Homo sapiens: one gene and its partners. The protein of the gene in region 1 interacts with the protein of each later gene in a biochemical or structural test. Each region holds a gene or a part of one and is shown on either strand. Other genes may lie near its edges.

What was found.
Region 2: the proteins of TRAF7 (region 1) and RIPK4 form a complex in vitro, tested with the Homo sapiens proteins (one study listed by BioGRID).
Region 3: the proteins of TRAF7 (region 1) and PDZRN4 interact in a test that uses a peptide from one of them, tested with the Homo sapiens proteins (one large-scale study listed by IntAct).
Region 4: the proteins of TRAF7 (region 1) and PARD3B interact in a test that uses a peptide from one of them, tested with the Homo sapiens proteins (one large-scale study listed by IntAct).

The regions. Positions count from the first base shown.
Region 1 is NC_000016.10:2,162,240-2,165,927, reverse strand, and holds part of TRAF7 (E3 ubiquitin-protein ligase TRAF7), read right to left. Parts: intron 2,046-3,688; 5' UTR 2,008-2,045; coding exon 1,927-2,007; intron 72-1,926; exon of another isoform or gene 50-71; coding exon 1-49. UniProt on the Homo sapiens protein: E3 ubiquitin and SUMO-protein ligase that plays a role in different biological processes such as innate immunity, inflammation or apoptosis. Potentiates MAP3K3-mediated activation of JUN/AP1 and DDIT3 transcriptional regulators.
Region 2 is NC_000021.9:41,742,915-41,746,602, forward strand, and holds part of RIPK4 (receptor-interacting serine/threonine-protein kinase 4), read right to left. Parts: intron 2,949-3,688; coding exon 2,845-2,948; intron 1,227-2,844; coding exon 968-1,226; intron 1-967.
Region 3 is NC_000012.12:41,572,193-41,575,343, reverse strand, and holds the end of PDZRN4 (PDZ domain-containing RING finger protein 4), read right to left. Parts: intron 2,981-3,151; coding exon 1,454-2,980; 3' UTR 599-1,453; downstream 1-598.
Region 4 is NC_000002.12:204,548,321-204,552,008, reverse strand, and holds part of PARD3B (partitioning defective 3 homolog B), read right to left. Parts: intron 1-3,688. UniProt on the Homo sapiens protein: Putative adapter protein involved in asymmetrical cell division and cell polarization processes. May play a role in the formation of epithelial tight junctions.

The DNA of each region.
Region 1 (3,688 bases):
TGGTGGTGACGGCTGAAAAGGCGGGTCCGAAGGTCGTTTCCATTCTGGTCTAGAGGGAGGACGGAGGAGACCTGGCCTCATTCCGGGACACAAGGAGGACGTGCACATGTGGAGCCCACTCACATGCCTAACACGCGACCAGGCCAGGCCACGCAGCACTCACACACTTAACCATGCGACCAGGCCACGCCACGCAGCACTCACACGCTTAATCATGCGACCAGGCCGCGCCACGCAGCGCTAACACGCTTAACCATGCGACCAGGCCAGGCCACGCAGCACTCACACGCTTAACCATGCGACCAGGCTGCGCCACACAGCACTCACACGCTTAACCATGCGACCAGGCCAGGCCACGCAGCACTAACACGCTAAACCATGCGACCAGGCCAGGCCACGCAGCACTCACACGTTTAACCATGCGACCAGGCTGCGCCACACAGCACTCACACGCTTAACCATGCGACCAGGCCAGGCCACGCAGCACTAACACGCTTAACCATGCGACCAGGCCAGGCCACGCAGCACTCACACGCTTAACCATGCGACCAGGCCGCGCCACGCAGCACTCACACGCTTAACCATGCGACCAGGCCGCGCCACACAGCACTCACACACTTAACCATGCGACCAGGCCGCGCCACGCAGCACTAACACGCTTAACCATGCGACCAGGCCGCGCCACGTAGCACTAACACGCTTAACCATGCGACCAGGCCAGGCCATGCAGCACTCACACGCTTAACCATGCGACCAGGCCAGGCCACGCAGCACTCACACGCTTCAGCATGCGACCAGGCCAGGCCACGCAGCACTCACACGCTTAACCATGCGACCAGGCCAGGCCATGCAGCACTCACACGCTTCAGCATGCGACCAGGCCAGGCCATGCAGCACTCACACGCTTAACCATGCGACCAGGCCAGGCCACGCAGCACTCACACGCTTAACCATGCGACCAGGCTGCGCCACACAGCACTCACACGCTTAACCATGCGACCAGGCCAGGCCACGCAGCACTAACACGCTTAACCATGCGACCAGGCCAGGCCACGCAGCACTCACACGCTTAACCATGCGACCAGGCTGCGCCACACAGCACTCACACGCTTAACCATGCGACCAGGCCAGGCCACGCAGCACTAACACGCTTAACCATGCGACCAGGCCAGGCCACGCAGCACTCACACGCTTAACCATGCGACCAGGCCGCGCCACGCAGCACTCACACGCTTAACCATGCAACCAGGCCGCGCCACACAGCACTCACACGCTTAACCATGCGACCAGGCCGCGCCACGCAGCACTAACACGCTTAACCATGCGACCAGGCCGCGCCACGTAGCACTAACATGCTTAACCATGCGACCAGGCCAGGCCACGCAGCACTCACACGCTTAACCATGCGACCAGGCCAGGCCACGTAGCACTCACACGCTTAACCATGCGACCAGGCCAGGCCACGCAGCACTAACACGCTTAACCATGCGACCAGGCCAGGCCACGCAGCACTCACACGCTTAACCATGCGACCAGGCCGCACCACGCAGCACTAACACGCTTAACCATGCAACCAGGCCGCGCCACGCAGCACTAACACGCTTTACCATGCGACCAGGCCAGGTCACGCAGCACTCACACGCTTAACCATGCGACCAGGCCGCGCCACGCAGCACTCACACGCTTAACCATGCAACCAGGCCGCGCCACACAGCACTAACACGCCCCAACCACACACGCACGCGTGCGCGCGCGCGCGCGCGCGCGCACACACACACACACACACACCACACCCCCCCCCACCGAGCTCCCCTGAGACCCCAGCTCGGGACGGGACTGCGCTGGGAGCTCTGCAGGCAACACCAGATCCCTGGGGCATGCTGGGGGTCCTGGGGATGTTGGGCTTGCAGAGGGGCACACCCTTACCCCTGTGGTGACGTCTGGGGTGGGAAGATTGCTGGGCCCCCCGGAGAAGCGGTTGTAGCGGGCACTCTTGCCTGAGCTCATGCTCTAGAGAGGCATCTACGGTCCTTGGGAAGCACCTCCTGTGGGTGGAGCACAAATGAGGGGCTTGAGAGATGGAGCCCAGGCCCCTGTGAGTCAGACGGGCTGCTGCAAGTGTGCAGACCTGCTGTGGGGCACCGTGGGGCCGCCGCAGCAGCCTTCCACCACCAGCCCCGGCTCAGGCAGGCCTCTAGGAGGCAAAGGTCCTTCACCCCGATCCCAGGTATGCAGAGGCCCGGGCAGGCAGGCGGCTCTGCGTCACCGTCCCTCAAGGCTTAGCCTTTCTGAGCTCCCGAAGAGCCCATCCAGCTCTTCCCCGAGGTGGAGGGACCCCTGCCTGGCTCCCTCTACTCCTCTGGGTCCTGAGTCACAGCCAGTCACCTCCAGGCTGAATGTCCCTGGGGCCAAGGCTGGGCCTTGGTGGGTAGGCCCAGGGTGTGGCCCACGTGGCGGGACGCAGTCACACAGGGACCAGCCAAGGCACGACGAATGTGTTTCCTGCCACGACAGGTGCGGTCAGGACCCAGCCAGCACCAGGCTGCAGCGGGGAGACACCAGCCACACCCCAGAGAAAGAACCTGCAGGGTGAGTCACCGGAGCCCAACTCCACACAAACCGCACTGCACGGAAAAAAGCACAGGAGAGAGATGAGCCCGCCCCTGGAACCCGTGCAGGTCACCCACACTCCCAGCCACGCCACAGGGGCTCAGGGGCTGGTGGGTGGGGGGGCAGGGAGAAGGCATGCGGGAATCACCCTCCCCAGAAGAGAGGGGCTGGTGGGCCTGGGGGAGACGTGGCCCCTCCGTGGGTGCTGGGAGTGCTGGCCAGGCCCAGGGACACCAGTAGGGGAAGGTAAACATTAGAGAGAAAAAGAGACCCAGCCAACAGGTCACACCCAGGACAGAGCCCGGGGAAGGGGCTGTCCATGCTGGATGACGCCCACTCTCCCCCCGTGAGGCACCAGGCTCTGTCAGCAGGCGCCCCTCCTCCCGAGCAGGTCCCACTTTCAGGACTTGGGCAGCCTGGAAGCCAGGAGCCTGGCAGAATGCAGCTGGGACAGCCCTGTCTCCTGCTGGCAGCGGATAGCGCAGCCGAGCCCCGGCTTGAAGCTGAGCTCCCTGTGGGGAGGAAGGCCACGTGCCCAGGACTCCTGCCCCGGGCCCACCTGCACTGTCCACCTCGAGGCCCATGCGCAGCACCCCATGAGGACACACCATGGGCTCAGCTCCCAAGGCAGGAGCCCTCAGAACAAGCTTGCTCTGGGGGCGGTGCAGCAGCAGGGAGCCCACTCCTGCGGCCCTGCTCTCACCCTGGGGAAGCCGGGCTGCAAACCAAGGCCCCAGGGGCCTGAGAGGAGCAGGACAGTCCCAGTCCCAGGCCAAAGTGGCGGAGCTGGTCTCTGCCCCCACCCAGCAGGAGCACAGCTCAGGGGGCATCACTGAGCCCAGCTGGCTCCAGTACCTCCTCCATCAGTCCCTCCTGACTGGGTCCCTTTGGCCATGCCCGCCCTGCATGCGCCTTCAAGATGCCACTCATCACCCACCACCGTGCCCACAGTCTGGCCTGGGGCCCCCCAGCCCGGCCTACAGGTGTGCAGGGAGGGGCTGGCTCTCAAGCCCTTGGTTCCCTGCACCTGAGCTCCTGGGCTGTCTACCACTCCTGCTGTCTCCTCTCCCATTCTCTA
Region 2 (3,688 bases), on another chromosome or scaffold:
AAGCCCATCACCCACTGCTTATCTGCCGTCGAACCAGGTCTTCCCCACTGTGTCTATGTAGCATTGCCTTAAAACAAGACAGCCTCCTTTGCCCCCAATATTCTAATCTAAAAATCCCGGGAAGTCTGTAAGATCCAGGAAAAGTCTTTGCCTCCAAGAGGATGTTTCCAATCCACCAGGAAAAGCCAACTTCCCCTTCCCCCGAGATTGCAGCCTTGGCCCTCAGCCCCCGTGGCTGTAGCCCTGAGTGTAAATCCCTGTATTTTCCATCAGAGCTGCAGCCCCTTCAGGAACAGGGCAGGACCACATCTTACCCCTGCAGCCGGCAGAAAGGAGGCCAGAACAAGCACCAGGTCCAGCACCCTGGGGCAGGGATAGGAAAAAAAGCACCTTCCAGAAACAAAAGCCATCAAAATTAACATAAAAAGATGAGATTAGCTAAAAGAGAAGTGCTCCTCCCTATCAGGTGGTTTGCAAAGGTGGCCTGGTGGTAAAACCTCCAAGGATAACCAACACATTACTAGGCCTGGACTACCGTGAACGGGGAGCCCACATATGCGAAGGCGTGGGTGTGTACCCAGCAGCGTCTGAGCAGAGGGTGCGGGACTGCCACGCCCGAGACAGGAGGCCCGCCAGGGAGTGGGGCTCGGCTACTCGCCAGGCTCACTGCACTGGAGGGGGTTTCCAATCTGTAGACCTGAGGTCAGCCTCCACCCATGGCACTGGCACAGGCAAGACTGCTGCACAGACTGGTGATGTGGCCTGTTCCCCACACATGCTAAGTGACATAAGACGGAGCCAAATGCCCAACACACAAAATTAATTACTTAAGACAGAGAGAACACAAAGAAGAATTCTTGCTGGGTCAAGAAACTGTCCCCTTGATTCCGTTTAGCTTCTCACTGAGTCCAGTCCACTGTCCCGCCAAGCCCAGCATCTCTCGGGACACAGAGGCGTCCCCACTCACCGCTGGTTGAAGGTTCCCGCTCAAAGGACAGCGACAGTGATCCTCTGGAAGAGAAGGCGGAGTCCACCGAGGACACCCCCGAGAGCCTCTTCCCACTGCCGGACGATGGCAGCTTGGACTCAGAGGAGCTGCGGCTGAGCTCCTCGGGGCCCTCGACAGCCTGGGAAACTCCAGAGTCCAGCTGTGAGAGCAGCTCGGAGAGGCTGTAGTCGTTATCGAAGGTGGGGGCAGAGGCCCGCTTGAGCCTCGCAGGCACCACCTGCGAAGATGCAGAAGAGGGGGTGGGTGAAGACCCTGCCATAGACCGCATGGCCCGCCCATGACACAAACACAGAAGAGCAAGGTGGGCCACGGGAGGGAGATGGGGGAGGAAAGGACGGACCCTGGAAGCAATGCAGATAACCTATTGGTCACCGAGCTCAGACCCCGCATCGGCACAGCACTAGGGAGCTCAGACGCCATGTCCACACAGCGCCGCGGAGCTCAGACCCCGCGCCCGCACAGTGCCGGGCAGCTCAGACCCTGCACCCGCACAGCACTTGGGATGCTCAGACTCTGCACCCGCACAGCGCCAGGGAGCTCAAAGACTTGGAGCTACAAAGACTTGCGCTGGCCCCACCCAGCACGGAGACATCTTAAGGAAAGATAGCCTTCATAAAAGTGCAAAATCCAGCCTCATGCAGCTCTGGATACCATCTGCTCAGTAACACTGCACAGAGCGTCACCCAGACAAAAGGCAGGCGGTGTCAAGCTGCAGAATGTGAGGCATGTATGGCGGGACACAGCTGCCCAGCACAGGCCAGCGTTGGCAGGAAACGAGAGGACAGACAGGAACTGGGCAGGACCCCCACACGTGGCCACAACTGCGACCTCCCCGCGGAGCCACGTGGGGCTGGCCTGGGGGCTGTGTGGGGACGAGGGAAAGGGGAAGGACCCGGCTACAGGGACGAGGGGTGATCCAATCCGACATACACCGATGGGGCCTTTTAAAGAGTCTCGCTTCATGGACTGCAGGGGCAGCAGGTTTCTGGTGGGTAAGTGGAATCTGACGGGATTTCACGCTTCTTCCCTTAGGCACACCTGTTTGCCCCAACTCCCCACCCTTTGTGGGACGGCTCGAGGTCCCGCACTGTTGCTGGGTGTACCGAGCCACCCCTACATGTTGGTTGCCTTCTTTCCCTTATCAGGGCCCAGGTCTGCCTCTGTACTAGCAACCCCCGGGCACCTTTGCTCCCGGGCTCACTGGCACACATGCACTTTATGTTGAGGCAGTGGGCGCATATTCCTGATATACATATTTCCTGATCTCCTGAGCTCACACCAACAGCCTGGGATTAATCGCCCAACACCAGATAACACGTTATAAAGCTCACTTATCAGCTGGGCCTCACAGGTCTGCTCCAGCCTCATCACCCGAAAAGGCATTTAGCCAGCCCTGCTACTTGGAGCTTCTTATCACATCTGAAATCACCTGGGTGGCACTCATCAGAGTGCAGACCATTTATGGGCAGCTATAAAGGAACTGGATCCCCGAGCCAGGGGTGCAAAGACACTCAGACACCAGCTCTCCCTCCCCGGCCGGGGCTGGGCCTTCTGATCCCCGTGGTCCACACACATCCAATGAGTGGCTATTTAGTGTCAGGGAAGCCCTTCCGCCACTCACGCAGAATCAGACAGGAGGTGGGGCGGGGATGCAGTCGGGCAGGTGGACCTGAGCCCCCATGGGACCTACACTTCTAATGGAGTTGGGTGCGGGATGGGCTCAGAAGAGAGGGAGAGTGGTCCGGGCGGCGGGGGACTCTGCAAAGAGGAGTGGTTTGGAAACTCCTGCCTGGAAGCCGAGGAGACAAAAGACCCCTGTGGGAAGGACTCGTTACCTCGCTCCTGGGCTCCGGGGGGCTTTTCACGTCCAGATCATGAGCAGTTTCTTTCACTTCGTCATCAGGCTTTTCACACAGGTCCTCGGTTTCAGAAGTAATTTCTTGTGGGGAAGAAAGGGGACATGTCACTCGGATGATGACTTCTGCGTACACACGCGTTCCATATAAACGCAGGGCCCCCACGAGCTGGGGGATTTCTCACACGCCTCGGCCCAGCCTGAGCTCACCAGGCAAGCCCAGGGGCCCTACATGGACAATTTGCTGGCCAAACCCAGGCCCCCCCATCGGTAATCATTTGAAGGCCTCACCAGACTCAAGGCGGAAGCCTTCCCCGGGGGAGCGCCACCTGCCAGTCACAGGGAGCAGAGCTGCCAGCACCTGGCGGATGAGCTCCCCATTCAGCCCGTTTCCTGCCGTAAGCTTTAAATGCAGCAGTTTCCATCTCATCAGGGTGACTTTCCTATGCCAGAGACACATCTGTCCCAGGAAGTCAACTCCTCAAGAGAAGGGCGACGCCGCCGGCCACCGGCCAGGTAAGTCCCCGGGAAGAGCATGGCTGCACCTGAACTTCAGGCTCCCATACAGACTCCTCTGGGTGGCAAGCCCAACCCTGGTGGGGAGCAGGGGGCGGATGGTTGGAGGCAACTCAGTTCCAGCTGCCGTGGCCGAGCCGTGAGTACCAGAGGCCGCAGGCAGGTGCTGGGTCCAACCTATCTGTGCAGGGCTCATTTCGGCCCACCTGTTACACGCCTTGTTTCTCACCCAGGCCTGGTCCCTCACCCTGTCCTGTCTGTCACCTCTGTCTCCTGTGACACCCACAGAATGTGGCGGGGAGACCCCG
Region 3 (3,151 bases), on another chromosome or scaffold:
TATACTTGACTATGCTGAGGATTTTGCAAATATGGTTCCCTAAAATTATTTATAAATTATTAAAATTTATTTATCAACTAAATACACATAGCACTACGGACTGAATTGTGTTCCTCCAAAATTCATATGTTGAAACCCTAACCCCTAGTGTGTTTGACCTTGACTCTTTCAGTCTTCAGAACTATGAGAAATTGATGCCCAGCACAGTGGTTCACACCTGTAATCTCAGCACTTTGGAAGGCCTCAGTAGGAGGATTGCTTGAATCCAGGAGTTCAAGACTAGCCTGGCAACAAAGTGAGACCACCATTTAAAAAAAAAAAAACTATGAGAAATAAATTCCTGTTGTTTAAGTATGGCATTATGTTATGATAGCCAGAGCAGACTAACATACATTGCAGCATTATAAACAATCTCAGACACTTCACTGATATTCTCTCTCCATGGCATTCTTTAAATTTTTCTTGGTTTTACCTTAAAAGTGGGTGGCAGGCAACGGGAACATGAACTAATGGCTATTGAATGTTGAGTTAGCATCTGTTAGATGCTATACATATATTATCGAATTTAATCCTGGTAGGCATATGTGACACAGTGATCTATAGGGAATGTTTCAATACAACTTTATTGGAAACAAGTGATAGAAAATGTGCACATTTTATAATCCACAATTAGGCGTCTTCTAAATAGTATACACATATAACTACTTTATAACTGTCAACCACTGTGGACAAGGAAAATAAAACACTCCTTGATAATTTTTCTGAAGGATAATCAATAATTTATTTCTCTTTAATTGTCACAATTACCATAATTATCTAGCTACATGACCAATGTCACTACATATCACAGGAAGATTGTCCACCTACACTTTACTGAGACAAAGACAATGGCCATTTATGTGTTAAATGTACAATGGGATGTTAACACCATTTATGTGTTAAATGTACAATGGGATGTTAAAAGCAGTGGCTTTTATGTGTAAGACAAGATGTGGCACATGATTTATTACGAACAGGTTTGATTTAAAATGTATTATGCCAAGAAACAAGCATAGAAATATTTTGGCATTGAGTTATTATTAAAGTAGAAAATAAGTAAACTAGAGAAATAAATCCAGATTTTCACTTACATTAGATACATTGAAGTAGGAAATTAATTGGCTCCTCAGTATTTTTGTGCAAGTTTTTTTTGTTTTCTTTCCTTTTGTTTTTGATTTTTTATAAACGAGTAATATGAATATATCACAAGTAAAAGAAAGATCTCAGCCAAAAAGAAGGTACCAGTATATGAAAAACAAATGAAAAATTACCAGGTATTTTTTGCTTACAAAAAATTTAAACTATAAAGAGTCACAAAATATATATAAAAACGCCACATTGAACGAGGCAATCATACTCTACCGAAACTGGTAGCATCCTCCTAAAATCAGTCGCATGCATTCCATTCATTCGGTCATACAGTGGTCACCGACAAGAAGGCATTATGGACTCTCGTGCCATCTGGAGACTTGGCCCCATGGGTCATCAGTTCTTGGATTGTCATCCAGTTGTCCAAAATTTTCTTGTTTCTCTTTTTCATCATCTTTTTGTGACTCAGTTCAATGATATTGATCTCCTTCTTGCCCTCACTGCCGCTCTGAGGGCTCTCCTTGAGACACTCTAACCTGCTTCGCATCATGAACTCACGGCGACGGCGCTGCTCTTTGGCCCTAACCAGGTGCTGCTTTCTCTCCTCTTTGCTCCAGTAGCGCCCCATTTTCATCTCGCTCATGGTGTCATCGTCTGTGGTCATGCCACTCCGCTCTTCCTTGATCTTTAAGGCACGTTCCTTCAGGATTCGGTCTCGCACGGGTCTCTTTGTGATGTACCGTGTCCCGTCGCTCCTAATTTTCACCTTCCATTCCATCTTGGGCTCTGAACACTTCTGAGACTCCTTGCACATGCTCACCAAGCTGAGCTGACTCTGAGCATACTCGACTGCAGATTTCTGTTGAATTAACTGCATGTAGCTTTGATAATGCCGGGCGTGTGCTGGGATGTTTGCATATCTATATGAGGAGCTGTGGTAAGGAGAGAGGTAAGGGATGTGTTCGCTGACTGCCTTCTCTTGATCAGGAAGCTTGCTGCCTTCTAAAACCTTCTCCTTGCTTTCAGCGCTACAACCTTGCTCAGTGGTTTTGGCTTTGGTGGAGGTCGACTCTTTACTGCTCTGTCCGGAAGAGGACTGGGTGGCTGCCATTGTGCTTCTCAGGTTTTTCTTATTGGTGAGGTTGATCACCCTTGGAAGGGAACTGTCAGGGGAACGGTCTACAGTGAGCGGAGTACTTCTGCAGCTCTCAGCTGTGTTGTAAGCACTAGAACTGTCCTTGTCAGACTTTTCTGGATGCTCCATGATGTCATCTAGCTTTCCCCTTTGCATATCTATGCTGGTGTTATAATTCCGGAATCCTCCATCATGCAATGTCCAGATGTCTCCATACTGGTCTGTCACTTTCTGGAGCCTGTGAGCCTGCATGATATTCTGACACTCAAGCTCAATGTTTCTCAGTTCTTCATTAAGCAACTGTAGCTCATGCTCCACTCCCTCTTGCTCCCCTTGATTGCATTCAATTGTGCTGCTTGAGTAATACAGGTCATACTCTCCATGATTTCGAATCTTGCATTTGAGCTCCAAGAGCTGCCTGAATCTTTCACAGTCCTCATCTGGGTTGCCAATGCAGTCTGAGTCAATGTATTCACCAGATACGAGGCTCTCATTGTACTGAAGTTCAACACTTCCCAGAGTGTCTTGGCTCTGCCCCAGGTCTCTCTTGCTCTTCAAAGATGTGCTATTGGGGTCCTCGGCTGCATTCTCCTGCTCTGAGCTCTCATCATTTCGCAAGCTTTCATCTGTACGTCCTACTCCACTGTCCTTCTCATGGTTGTTGGATGAGGATGTTGCAGTGTCTGTTGTGCCTTCTTCTTCTTCTTGCTTTTTTGGCTAAGAAAATGATGTTGAAAGAACAAAGAAAATTAATGATTTTGGAAGACATTTGTTATTAAAAATCTTGTTTGAAAACCAATGTTTCCTGGCAAAGTTGCATCTCCTAGACAGTTGCTCTAATTTAGGGTCCATCACAATTTTAGAAATAAAGGAAATTAGCTCATGGCA
Region 4 (3,688 bases), on another chromosome or scaffold:
TTTCAACTACTTAACAACCACATATGTCTAGTGGCTGCCCTCTTGAAAGATGCAGATCTAGAACATCTCTTCATCCCAGAAAGTTCTACTGCACTACACTGCTTTAGATTTTCCAAGAGAGGCCCAAAGCTCTGAATGTTTAACACACTCCTCAGATGTCTTTAACAGTCCACTCATAAAATAGTCTCACAAAAATCTGACAACATTACCATTTGCCCAACTTCTTCAAAGGGAATCTGTAGCACAGAATACCCTGGGAATGAATTCCTGGTTAACTAAGCCACTTGATTAAGCACAGGGCCTCAAGCTACAAATCAGGGCTGTGGCTCCCAATCGCGCACAGGGCAATTAACTCAGCTCAGATAACCAGCCAAACCCGGTTCAGCAAACCCTATGTGCATGGATTATACACAGAGGGTGTGTGGGGATGTGTGTGTGAGAGGGAGAGAAAGAGAAAGAGGAGGGAGGGGAGAGAAGATCCAGGAGCACAAACTCAAATGCCCACCAGCAGGCCAAATAGCAACCATGAATTAAGGCCATAAGTGAGAAAATAAGCACAGAGTAAAAACAGTCAAGCATGATGACAATAACTTATCCTCACTGTTAGGGAAGCAATAATGGAGACTGAAGCATTAATAATTCTTTCTAAAGAGAGCAGAGGTGTCTCAGCTCCAACTGATGGTTGCTATGTGGGAAAGTAAAGCCCAGCATTGTCAGAGCTTCCAATTTGCTTTTCCCCCAAAGAAGATAGGAATCTGGAGTTTTGCATGAAATCTCAAAATATTTAAATGCTGACAACTAAGTCAAAATATAACACTGAGCAGACCTACAAAAATATGTCTGTGGGTCACAGCAGGCCCCACGAGCCCTCTGTTTGCAAACTTAGAAGCTGCTCAATGCAAGCTGAGTAGCAGAACCAAAACCAAGTTGGAAGCATGTGTAATGCTGATGGCGAGTCAGTTCTGTCCACATGCTGTAAAGAAGTGAGGTCTGAATAGGAAATAAAGCACTCAAGTAAGTCAGTGCCCAATCAATTGAAAAGCATTTGAGGAATCCAGTCTGGGCCTAGCTTATGTATACAAGAACCTTAAAATCTATTTAGGTAACAAGGCATCAAAGCCTGAAAAGTTTAGAAATTCAAGAGTTCTAGCCTATTCCTCCAGGCTACTCCCACACATTATCATACCAGATTCTTCTAACTACACAAATTCTCTTAGATTCCGATCCCACAGTTAATCAGGGAATGGAATTGTTAGTCTAATCAGACTACTCCCAGTTCTGGGAAGCTGCCTCAACTTGTAAAACAAACATATTATTCAAAATATCTGAATACAGAAAAGATTCATCTTGAAAACCCTATCAAATATAATTTTTCCTTTCCAAAAAAGGGTGTACTCACATACGCAGTCAGAGCCACAAATTGGCCTTTGTAAATTCCAGCATGCCTGCTATTCCACGAATTCAATGCTCTTATTTCTCATTCATTCCAACCCCAGAACACACTATACATCCTCATTACTAGACAAGCCTTTCCCTTATTCACTTCATCCTCAGTGAATACACACACACACACACACACACACACACACACACACAGTCAGCCCTCCGCATCCATGCATTCCGCATCTGCGGATTCAACCAAACCCCAGATCAAAAATATTTAGAAAAAAAACTACGTGTACTGAACACACACACACAATTTTCTTGTCACTATTCCCTAAACAGTATAGTATAACAACTGTTTAAATAGCTTTTACATTGTATTAGGTATTATAAATAATCTAGAGATGACTTAAAGTATACAGGAGGATGTGTGTAGATTACATGCAAACACTGCAGCATTTTATATCAGGAACTTGAGCATCTGCAGATTTTGGTATCCGAGGGAAGTCCTGGAATCAATCCCCTATGGATACTAAGGGACAACTGTCTATATAAAATGAATGTTCACTTTAAGCAATTATTTGAGCACCTTCTATAGGAAGAATTCTTTAAGGGTAGGAGTAGGAGTATTCCTAATGGCACTAAAAGGTCAATAAATACTCTAACAAATTCCATGCTTTTATTTGTTTGTTTTTTTTTAATGAGAAAAGGCCAGAAATGTCAAAATTCATTTTGAAAAACAATGTGTAATAAATTCACTTTCTGTAAATCAGTGAAAGACACTTAAAAGGTTTGAATCCCTAGACAGCAAGGTTTTAAGCCCTGCACTTCATAATAATAATCCCATTAACAAATAACATGTATTGTGCTTATTCTGTTGCTTAATAACAGATTGGTGTGTAGATATCTAAGACACAGTATCTGCCATCAAAAGAGTTTAAAATCCAATGAGTTCAGCCATACGAAAAGATTAGAGTAGATTAGTGATTCTCAACCTTGGCTGGGCATTAGAATCACCTGGAGTGCTTTTTAAAATACCTATGCCCAGGACCCACTCCTAACCCAATGAATGAGAATCTTGGGGGAAGGGACACAGGTATTTGTAATGTTTAAAATGTTTAATGTGAAAATTAGAGGTTACTGAAGTTCAGCCAGGGTTGAGAGTCCCTGCAGGATACAGCTCAATTACCCATTCACCTGTGACACATAATTTTGATGATAAATTTAACTAATTACTCAACGATCCCCACCATAAGCACATAAGAAGACAATCACTTCTCCACTAACAACTTCACTAAATTGGATTTGGAGGCTGGGACACTGATAAAGTGTCAGGATTCGGAGATAAGCAATCCCACAGTTCTCACCTCTCAGTCCACCACGTTTCCAATGGAGTTCATCAAATGGTGGCAGGAACCTCAAAGGCCCAGACTTCAGAGCATAATTAAAGCCTTCCCAAAAGCTCCCCCTGTATCTTCAGGATCGCATCAACCTCTGGCCTTATCTGATGTTGATTCAGGGGGTTCCCAACATTCCACAAATAGGTTTTCTTTGTTCTCAACAGGTAGTGGTTACTTCTCAGACGCTGTCCACGAAATATAGAATGGCATTCTTGGACTTCACTTACTTTCCAAACTTTAGAAACCTCAACTTCATCCTCAATCTTGAAACCTGTCTTTCTCCCATCTACATTACTCAGTGCCTCAGAAAATAATGGACTTACTTTACATTCATGTTCCCACCAAATTTGGTTCTTTATAGCACTCGCCACCTGGATGTCTAAGATCTTGCCCATTTTCCCATTTGTAGTTAGACTGAGGAATATTTTTCATAGTTGATTTGCAAATCCTACAATATTTGCCTCAGAAACTAGATTTTCTACATGTAGACCTCATAAAATATATAATTAAGAGAAACTTGTGGATATCCCATCACTATTCCAGAAGCAAAATTGCTATTTTTAGGTTGATGTGATATAGCAGTTAGTAGATGGAAATGTCTTTTTAAATCAAGCATTAAAAAACAAACAATATGGATAAATTCCAATTCATAACAACATACATAGTACTAGGCTATGCAGTTAATGGCTGAGAGCAAACATCTAAAGACACAGTTCCTGGTTTCTAAACCCAAATCTACGACTTACTTGTCATGTCTCTGTGTCTCTTTTTCCCCTGATTTGTAAAATGGGGATAATAATAGTACCTATCTCCTAAGGTTGTTGGGAGAAATAAGTCATAAGCATGAAGTTCCTAAAACAGGGCCTGCACAGAATAAGCACAATACATGTTACATGTTAGTGTGA